3 separate regions of the Homo sapiens genome follow, and all the other regions are linked to region 2. The links come from fine-mapping of genetic effects on gene expression. A gene starts in region 2. Each other region holds a variant in brackets. All regions are shown on one strand. Distances are between the middles of the regions. Region 1 overlaps RCOR3 (REST corepressor 3). Region 2 holds the start of TRAF5 (TNF receptor associated factor 5). Region 3 has its middle 41 kb from the start of RD3.

Region 1 (4,000 bases), 43 kb before region 2:
ATATGTATGTATATATATGGAATATATAGTTTTGCCCAACTATGCAAGATGATGCATACTCATTTGGTCTTTTGTTTGCTTATGATCTCATCTTACCAGAAAATAATATGAGGGGAGTATAAGTTAAAAAGTTTTAAGAGGATACTGCAGAGGTGTGGTCCAAGACTAGCACTATGTGTCAGCAGCTTCATTCATTTCTCTGCTCATTCCAAACAATAAGGATACCAGGCAGGGAAAGAAACTACATTATTGCTTTTAATATAGATCTTTGTAGCTGCTTCTGCATGTTGTTAACATATTACATAGAAAGTTTTAATTTTAACTTTTAAAAGTTGTGAACTATTTAAAGAAAAATAATAGATACCAGTGTATCTACCACTGAGCTGAAGAAACAGAAGTCCTGTTTGTGTTTCCTCAATTGGATATTCTTGTTTTTTTTTTTTTTTTGAGAGGGAGTCTCACTCTGTCGCCCAGGCTGGAGTGCAGTGGCACGATCTCGGCTCACTGCAACCTCCACCTGGGCTCAAGCAATTCTCCTGCCTCAGCCTCCCGAGTAGCTGGGACTACAGGCATGCGTCACCATGCCTGGCTAATTTTTGTATTTTTAGTAGAAATGGGGTTTCGCCATGTTGGCTAGGCTGGTCTAGAACTCCTGACCTCAGGTGATCCACCTGCCTCAGCTTCCCAGAGTGCTGGGATTACAGGCGTGAGCCACCGTGCCCGGCCTCAATTGCATAGTCTCACCTTCTCTCTAGAGGGAACCACTATAATGAAATTTCTAAATTATTCACTTCTTTCTTTATAGTTTTATCACATATATATAATCACATATGATGATATGATTATCATTTAGTTTCATTTATTTCATACTTTATTTAATTGGAATCATATTGTATGTATTCTTCAGTACTTGCCTTTTGTTATTATTTTTGCGATTCATTTTTATTGCTATATTATAGTGTTCCATTGTATACATATACTGCAACTTATTCACTCTCCAATTAATAAACTTAATTTCCAGCTTTTTATTACGGACACTGCTGATATGAACATGTTCTGGATACACATGTCTGAGAGTTCCTTTGGTACAATAGTTCTCAGCTAGGTTTAGCACTGACCCCATAGGGGACATTTAGAAATTATGGAGGTGTTTTCATTGTTAACAGTGATTGTGGGGCATTTCAGTTGTCGAGTGGGCAGGAGAAAGGGGTGACAACTATACTGAAGTGCAAAGCACAGATTGTTTCACCAAAATGCCAACAGTGATTTACTGAGTAACAGGGTCCCAGGATTCTTTGGAATGGAGTCACTCTATTTTAGGGAATAGCCACATTAAACTTTCCTAGGTAATGGCATAATTGTTTTCTATAGCTGATATACCTCCACTAGACTGTGAGAATACCCATTGTATACTTCCTTGCCAATGCTTGATCAGACTTTTAAAATGTTCCAAATCTGGCAATATGAGAAGGCATTTCATTGTGTCCTCAGTTTCATTCATCAGGTAACTACTGAGGCTGAATGTTTTTCTATCTGTTTATTAGCTGTTGTTATATGTTTCGTTCGTGGAGGTTTTTGTTTTGTTTTTTTAGAGACAGAATCTTGCTTATTGCCCAAGCTAGTGTGCAGTTGTGTGATCATAGCCACTGCAGCCTCAAACTTCTGGGC[T/C]CAAATGATCCGCCTGCTTCATGCTCCCAAGTAGCTGGGATTGCAGACGTGAGCCAGCATGCCTGGCTTGTATTTTTTTTTTTTTTCACCCATTTTTCCACTGCGTATTTGTCTTTTTCTTAAAGACTGAATATAAAAAGTTTTTTCTTATTGAATTCTTTGTATATTCTGGATACGAGTCCTTTGGTTAACAGCAAATATCTTTTGCCAGTTTGTGGTTTGTGTTTTTACTCTCTACAGGGAAGTAAACAGCTATTTCATCAAAAGCATATAAATTTTAAATTTATTATTTATTTATTTTATTTTATTTTATTTATTTATTTATTTTTTTGAGATGGAGTCTCGCTCTGTCGCCCAGGCTGGAGTGCAGTGGCGGGATCTCGGCTCGCTGCAAGCCCTACCTGCCGTGTTCACGCCATTCTCCTACCTCAGCCTCCTGAGTAACTGGGACTACAAGCGCCTGCCACCACGCCTGGCTAATTGTTTTTTTGTTTGTTTGTTTGTTTGTTTTTTGTATTTTTAGTAGAGACGGTGTTTCACTGTGTTAGTCAGGATGGTCTCGATCTCCTGACCTTGTGATGCATCCGCCTCAGCCTCCCAAAGTGCTGGGATTACAGGCGTGAGCCACTGTGCCCGGCCAATTTTAAATTTAAATTCCAGTATTCTTTTACATTTTCTTTTGAAAATTTTAAACTTTTTCTCTTTTTACATTGAAGTCCTTGCTGTAGCAGTAAATAAGTTCATGTTGTGAGGTAGAGATCCTTTATTTATTTATTTATTTATTTATGTATTTATTTAACAGTTGGGGGTCTTGTTTTGTCACCCAGGCTAGTGTGCCAGTGACACAATCATAGCTCACTTCTGGCACAAATTCCTGGGCTCAAGCCATCCTCTTGCCTCCTAAGTAGCTGGGACTACAGGCATGCACCACCACACCCAGCTAATTTTTTAAAAAACTTTTTGTAGAGATGGGGTCTTGCTACATTGTCCAGACTGGTCTTGAGCTTCTGGGCTCAAGTGATCCTCCCACCTTGGCCTCCCAAAGTGCTGGGATAACAGGTGTGAGCCCTACCATGCCTGGCTATTTATTTTTTAATACGGAATTGAATATCTTTTTCAACTGGTCTGCAATACCAGCTTTATTTTATATGAGGCTTACGCATATGCCTGGCTCTCTATTCTGCTTCTGTTGTCAGTTAAATATTCCTTGCTAATCCCACATTTTTTCAATTACTTATAATAAGCCTCATAAGTCTTGATAGTTGCTAGGGTAAGTTCTGCTATTTGGTGGTTCTTCTTAAGGAGTGTGTACCTTGGTTATTCTTGGACCTTTGCTCTTCATAACTTATTTGTATTACTTTTGATTTCCTATATAGTGATTTATATTACCTGAAAATAATAGCTATTTTGTTTCTTTTTAGTCCTTGTATCTTATTTCTTCTCTTGCTGAACTGGTTAGTATCACCAATATAATTTGAATAGAAGATATGATAGGGAACATTTTTCTGATCGTAAAGAGAATCGTTTTTGTTTCAACATCAAGTAGGTTGTTATTAAAGGTTTTTGACTCATTCACATTGCTGGTAGTTGATGCTAGCTGTAGGTTGGAGCAATTCCATTTGGCCTCTCCAATTTGGTGGTCTCTGAGTAATCTAACTTCTTGCCATAATGGCTGGTTTCCTCCAACGTAATCAATCCCGGAAGCACTAAGTGGAAACTACTCAGCTGTTTCTGGCCTAGCCTTGAAAGTTACTCAGAGTCACTTCTCTTGCATTCAGTGGTTATAAGTGAGTTACTAAAGTTGGTTCAGAATCAAGGGGAAGGAATATAGACCCCTGCTTCCCCATGGCAGGAATGTTGAGGAATTTGTTGACATGTTTTAAACCTCCAAGCCCAGAGTATGGAATTTTCATAAATGTTTTCCCATGTGTGCTTAGGGATATTATCTTGGTAACAAGGTTTTATATATGTCCATTAATTTAGGTTTGTCAGTTCTGTAGTTGAAATCCATATTCTTACTGCTTGCCTACTTGATAGCTTGGTTTTTGTTGTCTGCTTATGTGATCAATTATTCTGATCACTCAATTACTGAGAAGTAGTTTTTTATATGTTGAAGTTAGTGTTATTAGGTGCATACAAATTGTTTTATCTTGCTGCTGAATTGAGCCTTTTATCAATATGTAGGGTCTCTTTTATTGGCTTCTGCCTTGAAGATTATTTTATCTGTTATGTTGATAGCTCCACCATTTTTCTTCTGTTAAGTATTTGCCTGGTTTATCTTTATCATTTTACTTTCAACATTTCTGTGTCCTCACATGTTAAGTATGTGTCT
Region 2 (4,351 bases):
AGTCAATGACAGGACCAGGGATTCTGAGCATACCTGCATGTATGCATACTAGACACTGATGTTCCAGCCAGTGAAAGGAGATATAACTTCTAAAAAACAGTATCAACTTTATTATGCTTGGAAGTAATGAGAAGAGAGGCAAGAAGCAGGCAATGGTAAGAGAAAGCGGGTGGGACGTAGTGGCTTGCACATTTAATCCCAGCACTTTGGGAGGTCGAGGTGGGAGGATCGCTTAAACCCAGGAGTTTGAGACCAGCCTGGGCAACATAGTAAGTCTCCATCTCTTCAAAAAAAAAAAAAAAAAAAAAGGAGCTGGGGGAGGTGGGCGTAGTGGTGTGTGCCTGTAGTCCCAGCTACTCTGGGGGCTGAAGCGGCAGAATTACTTGAGCCCAGGAGATCCAGCCTGCAGTGAGCTGTGATCATGCCCCTGCACTCCAGCCTGGGTGACAGAGTGAGAACCTCTCTCAAAAAATACACACCCACAAAAAGAGAGGGAAAGTATAGTGTATGGCAGAACAGGAAGGAGAACTTGGGTTCACTAAGCACCTACTCTGTGTTAGGCGTACAGGAGTGCCATCTCATTTAATTCTCATGAGAAGATTATGAGACAGATCTACAGTCCCAAAGCAACACCCACCAGTGCCTCTCCCCCACGGAGCGGTTCATCTAACTCACCAACCAAAAAAGGTTTGGATCTGGATTTCTGGCTCTTTGGAGAAATAAGAGATCAGGTAACAATAGGCTGGCACTGGGTGGTGGCTGCTCCACTAGATCCTCCACCTGCTCTTTAGTGCACCAGCGCCTCCCTCCTTTCTCCATGACCACAACCTCTGCCTCCCTCCTGTATGTTTCCTGCCGAGCTCCTGTGCACATCTGAGTTTTTGACTCCCAAGGTGTGTATTATTCTCCCCTTTTATTGACGAGGACGGTAACTGAAACTCAGAGCAGTTAAGTACTTTTCCCACGGTGGCCTAACTGAAAGTAAAGGATCTAGATAGAATTGGAATTTTGGTCCATTTCATTTATATAGAATGTATTGCCCTTGGAGAGAATATATTGTAAGAAAGAGCCCGTATCTAAGAGTGCGCAGGCCAAGCGCGGTGGCTCACGCCTGTTGGGAGGGCAAGGCAGGCGGATCACAAGGTCAAGAGATGAGACCAGCCTGACCAACATGGTGAAACCCCGTCTCTACTAAAAGTACAAAAATTAGCCCGGCGTGGTGGCACATGCTTGTAATCCCAGCTACTCGGGAGGCTGAGGCAGGAGAATTGCTTGAACCTGGGAGGCCAGGGTTGCAGTGAGCCGAGATCGCGTCACCGCACTCCAGCCTGGCGTGAGAGCGAGACTCCGTCTCAAAAAATAAAATAAAATAAAAAATACGTATAGAGAGAGAGAGAGGGAGAGAGACAGGCAGACAGCAGACCTGGATTCAAGTTCCAGCTGCAGAGCTTGCTGAGCGTGTCTAACCTTGGGTACGTCACTCCACGTTGCTGCTCTGGCCCTCAGACAGCTCATCTGTAAAATGGGGATGACCAGGCCTACTTCACCAGCTTGTTTTGAGGACCACAGGAGATGTTTGGGAAGCCAACCGGGGAGCTCTACAACTCTCAGAGATTGCTGGTGTTAGGCCAACAGCAAGAGGAGGGCTGGCAAATTTGTGCTACCCTGAAGGAAAGTCCAGGAAGGACTGATTTGAGCCAGATCTCAAGCAAGGCCTTGAGCAAATGGGTCAACACAGGAGAGGACGGGCTGAGCCTTGTTGTGCCTGACGGAAGAGCAAGACGGCCACAATTCAGACGCACGTGAGGGAAATCAGATGACTGGACTTGTAGATACTAACGGTTCTGAAGCGGGTAGGTTAGCTTTCCAACCGCCTGGATGACGGTCTCAGCCTCCTCCCGACCCCTTCCTGCGCGTCCGCTCTTCCCCTGCGCCCGCCCGCGCCCCTCCGCCCGCGCCCCGGCCCCGCCCCAGGCCTCGCCTCCGCTTCGCCGCCGCCGCCGGCCGCAGCCAGGAGCAGCAGCCGCGCCTGCAGACCGGCCTCGCGGAGCCCGCGCGCCGAGCCCCACGTGAGTCCGGCGGGTCGCCGCCCTGGGCACCCTCGCGACGGAAGGGCCGGGGTGGGGACACCGACGAGCGCTTTTCATCTCGTCCCAGTTACTTTGAAACCGAAAGCGCCTGCTGGCGTCCGGCCGGTCCCCGACCGGCGGGGAGGGCGCGAGGCGGCGGCTGGGCCGGGGGAGGCGGAGGGGCCCGGGCTTGCGGGAGACCGGCGGGGCAGGTGACCGCCGACGGCCCGGGGACAGCGGGAGCGGTGCGGAGCGGGTTTCTTAGCCGGGGAGAGGTGTGGCGAGGGCGGAGACTGGGGGTCCAAAGCTGGGGAGCTGGTCCAGAGGGCGGCTGTGGACCGGAGGGGCCAGGTTCCGTCGGGGTGCACTGGCGGGGAGGACTTTCAGGCACGTCCCGCACATCCGCACTGCAAACCAGGCCCTGGCCCCCTTCCGCACCCGAAGGCACCCTCTCCACCTTTGCAGGGCTTTCCAATCAAAGCAACTCCAGAATGAAACTTCAGGATTGCAAGGAATGGAAGCCTCTACCAGCTGTTCGTTTGCGCGTCTTCCTTTAGAAAGCAGCTACCCCCCTCCCCCAGAAGGCGAGCTCTAAGGAACCTTGACGCAAACCAAAGCTCCGAGAGGTGGAAGGAGTTGCCCAGAGGCACCCAGAGAATTCGCAGATTCTGAGTTCTCCGTACCAGATGGTCTCCACTTTGTTCCTGTTCTGCAGGGTCTTGGTGGTTCTGAGAATTTTCGGGGCCACGCTCTTGCTGCGGGTCCCACTGGGCCACTCTGGCTGGCCGACTTTCTCTGCTCATTCGGCCTCCTTCTGCTAAGTTTCCATATTTGGGTATTTCAGATTTACTTTCATGAGAACTCAGTTATCTCGCTGTGGCAGGCAGAGCTGCCTCAGGCGAGCATTGAGGTTGGTGAAACCAGGCGAGGCTCCCTGCCAGGGCTGCCCCTGCAGCCCCCACCCTCCATAGCCTTGGGCTCTGACCCACCTCCTGTGAGGATAGGCATCTGGTAACCAGTTTAATTCTGTAAATATTTATTGGGCAGGTGCTGTGTGAGAACTGGGCTGGGGCCAGTGGAATATGGTTATTTCCTCCAGAGATACTTGCATTTTAAAAGGGCTCTGGAAGACCTGAGATGCAAAGAAATTAGTTGAACCATTTCTGGAAATAGAACAGTTTTGGGTGTGTGCGAGATAATTTTAGGCAGCAAAAGGCTGGGCTAGGAACTCTCAAATCCCAGTGCAGCTGCTCTGCCTTATGTACTCACAAAGCTGAAAACAGGGGTGTTAATGTAATTGATGGTTTGGGTGGAAACACTTCCATCCCTAACTCTAATTTGAACTAGAAAGACAGAAATTGCTGCAGGAACGATGGATGTAAGATGGAAGTGGAAAACGCCTAGCTTCTGTAAAGGTTTTTGATTTTGTTACAGTTACTGTTTTTGTTGTAACTCTATGGAATGGATCACCTCTCAGATCCCTGGCTCCTGGACAGAGGCAGGAGAAAGTGTCTGAGCCAGCATCTGGAACATGGGAAGTGATGGAGAAGGCGACTTCTCCCACGGCCTCTGGGCTGAGAGGCCTGTTGTGACGGGCAGGGTAGGATGGTGGTATTTCCCTCTGTCAGCAGCAAGCCCGCTGGACTTGGGTAGTAGGGCGATGGAAAGAGTGTGGAAAAGAGCTGCCGTCCACTGAACGTCCTGACGATAGGGACTGGGATGTTTCAGTGGGGATGATTTGCACAGTCGGGGAGCTAGATGCCTCAGAGTCAGTCTTGTTAGGCTTGCAGTGGGAAAGGCACCTCAGTACTTAGACAAACCTCCTCTGATTAGCTCAGCTTTACTGGGGAGGACCTTGAAGGAAAAATAATTATTTGTTTGTAAAGCTCGTTCCTTTGCAAAGCATTTTCTCTTTGTTCTTGTCGTTTTGTTCTCATTTCGTCCTCCATGACGCCCTCATGAGTTAGAGCAGGCTTATTCTCTACATCTCTCAGATTGTGAGGGTGAAGCACTGAGGCGGTAAATAGCTCCCTGAGCTCCACTGCTGGACCAGGATCAGAGCATTGAGGTGTCTTGTTCCCCTGCTCCAGGCCCCTCACCCTGGCTTCTCAGAGAGCCATATCTGCCCACCTCTTCCTCCGTCTGAGGGGTCAGCAAGGGGACCCAGATTCTGATAATGCCTCTGTGGTCTGTCCCCAGCAACATGGAGCAAGTTCTGCTGGAGACTCTGGCCTAACCACCACAAGAACAGACATCCACTCTGTTAGCTCTGCCTAGCCAGG
Region 3 (4,351 bases), 120 kb after region 2:
CACTCCATGCCCAGCTTTAGGTGGCTCAGAACAAAGAGAAATACTCTGGGATAAAGTAAAGGAAGAGAACAAGAGTCTCTCCTGGTAATCCAGAGAAGTCTCCCAGATCTTGTCCAAGACCATCATGAGTCTTCAAGAACCACAGCATTACTGGCCTTGGGGTGCTCCCTAAAGCAGATACAGCTTAGATCACAACACCTAGGTCCTTTCAAATATCTGGAACGCCTTCCCAAGAAGGATAGATACAAATAAGCCCAGGCAGTGAAGACTACAGTAAATAATTCTTCAATGCCCAGACACTGAAGAACATCTACTAGCATTATCACCATCTAGGAAAACATGACCTCACCAAATGAACTAAATAAGGTACCAGGTACCAATCCTGGAGAAAGAGATATGTGACCTTTCAGATGGATAATTTAAAATAGCTGTGTTGAGGAAACTCTAAGAAATTTAAGATAACAGAAGGAATTCAGAATTCTATCAGATAAATTTTAAAAAGAGACTAAAATAATTTTTTAAAATCAAGCAGAAATTCTTGAGCTGAAAAATGCAGTTGGCAGCCAAGCAAGATGGCTCACGCCTGTGATCCCAGCACTTTGGGAGGCCAAGGTGGGCAGATCACCTGAGGTCAGGAGTTCGAGACCAGCCTGGCCAAGATGGTGAAACCCCGTCTCTACTAAAAAACAAAAATTAGCTGGATGTGGTGGCAGGCACCTGTAATCCCAGCTACTTGGGAGGCTGAGGCAGGAGAATAGCTTGAACCCGGGAGACGGAGGTTGCAGTGAGCCAAGGTCACGCCATTGCACTCCTGCCTGGGTAACAACGGCGAAACTCTGGCTGAAAAAAAAAATGCAGTTGGCATACTGAAAAATTCATCAGAGCCCTTTAGCAGCATTGATCAAGCAGAAGAAAGAATTAGTGAGCTGGAAGACAGTTTATTTGAAAATACACAGAAGAGACAAAAGAAAAAATAAAAACGCACCTACAGGATCTAGCAAATAGCTTAAAAAGGGCAAATCTAAGTGTTATTGGCCTTAAAGAGGAAGTAGAGAAGAGATAGGGGTAGAAAGTTTATTCAAAAGGGATAATAACAGAGAACTCCCCAAACCTAGAGAAAGATATCAGTATCCAAGTACAAGAAGGTTATAGAACATCAAGCAGATTTAACCCAAAGAATGCCATCTCAAGGCATTTAATAATCAAACTCCCAAAGGTCAAAGATAAAGAAAGGACCCTAAAAGCATCAAGAGAAAAGAAACAGATAATATACATTGGAGTGCCAATACATTTAGCAGCAGATTTTTCAGTGGCCAGGAAAGAATGTCATGACATATTTGAAGTGATGAAGGAAAAAATCTTTTACCCTAGAATAGTATATTCAGCAAAAACATTCTTCAAGCATGAAGGAGAAATAAAGACTTTCCCAGACAAACAAAAGCTGAGGGATTTCATCAACACCACACCTGTTCTACAACAAATGCTAAAGGGAGTACTTCATTCAGGACATTAATGAGCAATAAGTGATCACCCAAAGGTACAAAACTCACTGTTAATAGTACACAGAATATTATTATGCTGTAACTGTGGTGTGTAAACTACTCATCCTAAGTAGAAAGACTAAATGATGAACCAGGCTGGGTGCAGTCGGTGGCTCACACCTGTAATCCCAGCACTTTGGAAGGCTGAGGTGGGTGGATCACTTGAGGTCGGGAGTTCAAGACCAGCCTGGCCAACATGGCAAAACCCCATCTCTATAAAAAATACAAAAGTTAGTTGGGCGTGGTGCCGGGCACCTGTAATTCCTGCTACTCAGAAAGATGAGGCAGGAGAATCACTTGAACATGGGAGGTGGAGGCTGCAGTGAGCAGAGATTGCACCACTGCACTCCAGCCTGGGCAACAGAGTGAGACCCATTCT[CA/C]AAAAAAAAAAAAAAAAAAAGATGAGCCAATCAAAAATAACTGCAACAACTTTTCAAGACATAGTTGGTAAAATAAGATAAAAATAGAGACAATAAAAAGTTAAAAAGCAAGGGGATGAAGTTAAGGCATAGAGTTTTTATTCACTTTCTTTTTGATTGTTTCTTTATGCAAACGGTGTTAACTTGTTATCAGGTTAAAATGATGGATCATAAGATAGTATCAGCAAGCCTCATGGTAACCTCAAACCAAAAAACATACAATAGAGACACAAAAAATAAAAAGCAAGAAACTAAATCATATCACCAAAGAAAATCATCATAACTAAAGGAAGACAAGAAGGAAAAAAGAAATATTGACTAGCCTTAAAAAGAGAAAAATAAAAAAGAAGGAAGAAAAAAACACAAAACAACCAGAAAACAAATAACAAAATGGCAGGAGTAAGTCCTTACTTATCAATAATAATATTAAATGTAAATGGACTAAACTCTCAAGTCAAAGGCGTAGAGTGGCAGAATAGATGAATAAACAAGACCCATTGATTTATTTCTATAAGAAACACACTTCACCTATAAAGACCCACATAAACTGAAAATAAAGGGATGGAAAAAGATATTCCATGCCAATGGAAACCAAAAAAGAGCAGGAGTTGGTATACTTACATCAAACAAATAAATTTCAAGACCAAAACTATAAGAAGAGGCAAAGAAAGTCTCTATATAATGATAAAGGGGTCAATTCAGCAAGAGAATATAACAATTTTAAATATATATGCACCCAACACTGGATCACCCACATATATAAAGCAAATATTATTGGAGCTAAAGAGAGAGATAGGCCTTGATATGATAATAGCTGGAGACTTCAGGACCCCACTTTCAGCATTGGACAGATCTTCCAGACAGAAAATCAACAAAGAAACATCAGACTTAATCTACACTGTAGACCAAATGGATCTAATAGATATTTACAGAACATTTCATCCAACAGCTGCAGAATACACATACTTTTCCTCAACACATGATTATTCTCAAGGATAGACCATATGTTAGGTTATGAAACAAGTCTTAAAACATTCAAAAAAATTTAAGCATCTTCTCTGACCACAATGGAATAAAACTAGAAATTAATAACATGAGGAATCTTGGAAACTATGCAAATATATGGAAATTAAACAATATCCTCCTGAATGACCAGTGGGTCAATGAAGAAATTTAGAAGGAAATTGAAAAGCTTCTTGAAACAAATGATTATGGAAACACACATACCAAAACATAGGATACAGCAAAAGCAGTACTAAGAGGGAATTTATAGCTACAAGTGCCTACATCAAAAAAGAGGAAGACTTTCTCTTTCTTTCTTTCTTTCTTTCTTTCTTTCTTTCTTTCTTTCTCTTTCTTTCTTTCTTTCTCTTTCTTTCTTTCTTTCTTTCTTTCCTTTCTTTTCTTCTTTTCTTTCTTTCTCTCTCTTTTTTTCCTTTCTTTTCTTCTTTTCTTTCTTTCTTTCTTTTCTTTTCTTTTTTTTTTTTGAGACAGAGTCTCACTCTGTCACCTGTCACCCAGGCTGGAGTGCAATGGCACAATCACAGCTCACTGCAGCTGAGACCTTCCAGGCTCAGGTGATCCTCCCACTTCAGGCCCCTCAAGGAGCTGGGACTACAGGTGTGTGCCATCACACCTGGCTAATTTTTTGTAGAGATAGGGCTTTGCCATGTTTCCAAGGCTGGTCTCAAACTCCTGAGCTCAAGTGACCTGCCCACCTCGGCCTCCCAAAGTGCTAGGATTACATGTGTGAGCCACCCAGCACTTTGGGAAAACTTCAAATAAACAATCTGGCAATGCATCTTAAAGAACCAGAAGGTGGCAGGGGGTGAGGGAGGCTAAGAAAATAAAAAAAGAACTAGAAGAGCAAGAGCAAACCAAACCTAAAATTAGTAGAAGAAAAGAAATAATAAAGATCAGAGCAGAAAGAAATAAAATTGCAATAAACCCAAAAGATCAATGAAACAAAATATTGTTGTTTTGAAAAGTTAAACCAGGCTGGGCACGGTGGCTCATGCCTGTAATCCCAGTACTTTGAGAGACCGAGGCGGGTGGATCACCTGAGGTCAGGAGTTTGAGACCAGCCTGGCCAACATGGTGAAACCCTGTCTCTACTAAAAATACAAAAAAAACTAGCTGGGCATGGTGTCAGGTGCCTGTAATCCCAGCTACTCAGGAGGCTGAGGCAGGAGAATCGTTTGAACCCAGGAAGCGGAAGTTGCAGTGAGCCGAGATCGAGACTTAGTCTCAGGAAAAAAAAAAAAGAAAAGTTAAACCAAATTGACAAACCTTTAACCAGATTACCTAAGAAGAAAGCAGAGAAGATACAAATAAAATCAGAAACAAAAAAGGAGACATTACAACTGATATTGCAAAAATTCAAAAGATCAT

Evidence for each region. PIP is the estimated chance that this variant, and not a neighbour inherited with it, causes the effect.
Region 1: its variant is the best candidate, but not a certain one, in a credible set for the expression of TRAF5 in whole blood (TOPMed, PIP 0.76).
Region 3: its variant is the best candidate, but not a certain one, in a credible set for the expression of TRAF5 in whole blood (INTERVAL, PIP 0.67).

Annotation. Positions count from the first base shown.
Region 1 is chr1:211,282,073-211,286,072 of GRCh38, forward strand. The region is part of intron 7 of RCOR3 (REST corepressor 3); the gene reads left to right. Among named protein-coding and RNA genes, the nearest start is that of RCOR3, 25 kb to the left of the region's middle. The variant T/C (reference allele first, on the strand shown) is at 1,669.
Region 2 is chr1:211,324,821-211,329,171 of GRCh38, forward strand. It overlaps TRAF5 (TNF receptor associated factor 5), which reads left to right and starts at 2,013. Exons shown (of 11, transcript NM_001033910.3): 1 at 2,013-2,069. RefSeq lists enhancers at 717-1,218, 1,488-1,877 and a silencer at 1,938-2,307.
Region 3 is chr1:211,448,899-211,453,249 of GRCh38, forward strand. No RefSeq gene overlaps it. Among named protein-coding and RNA genes, the nearest start is that of RD3, 41 kb to the right of the region's middle. The variant CA/C (reference allele first, on the strand shown) is at 1,921.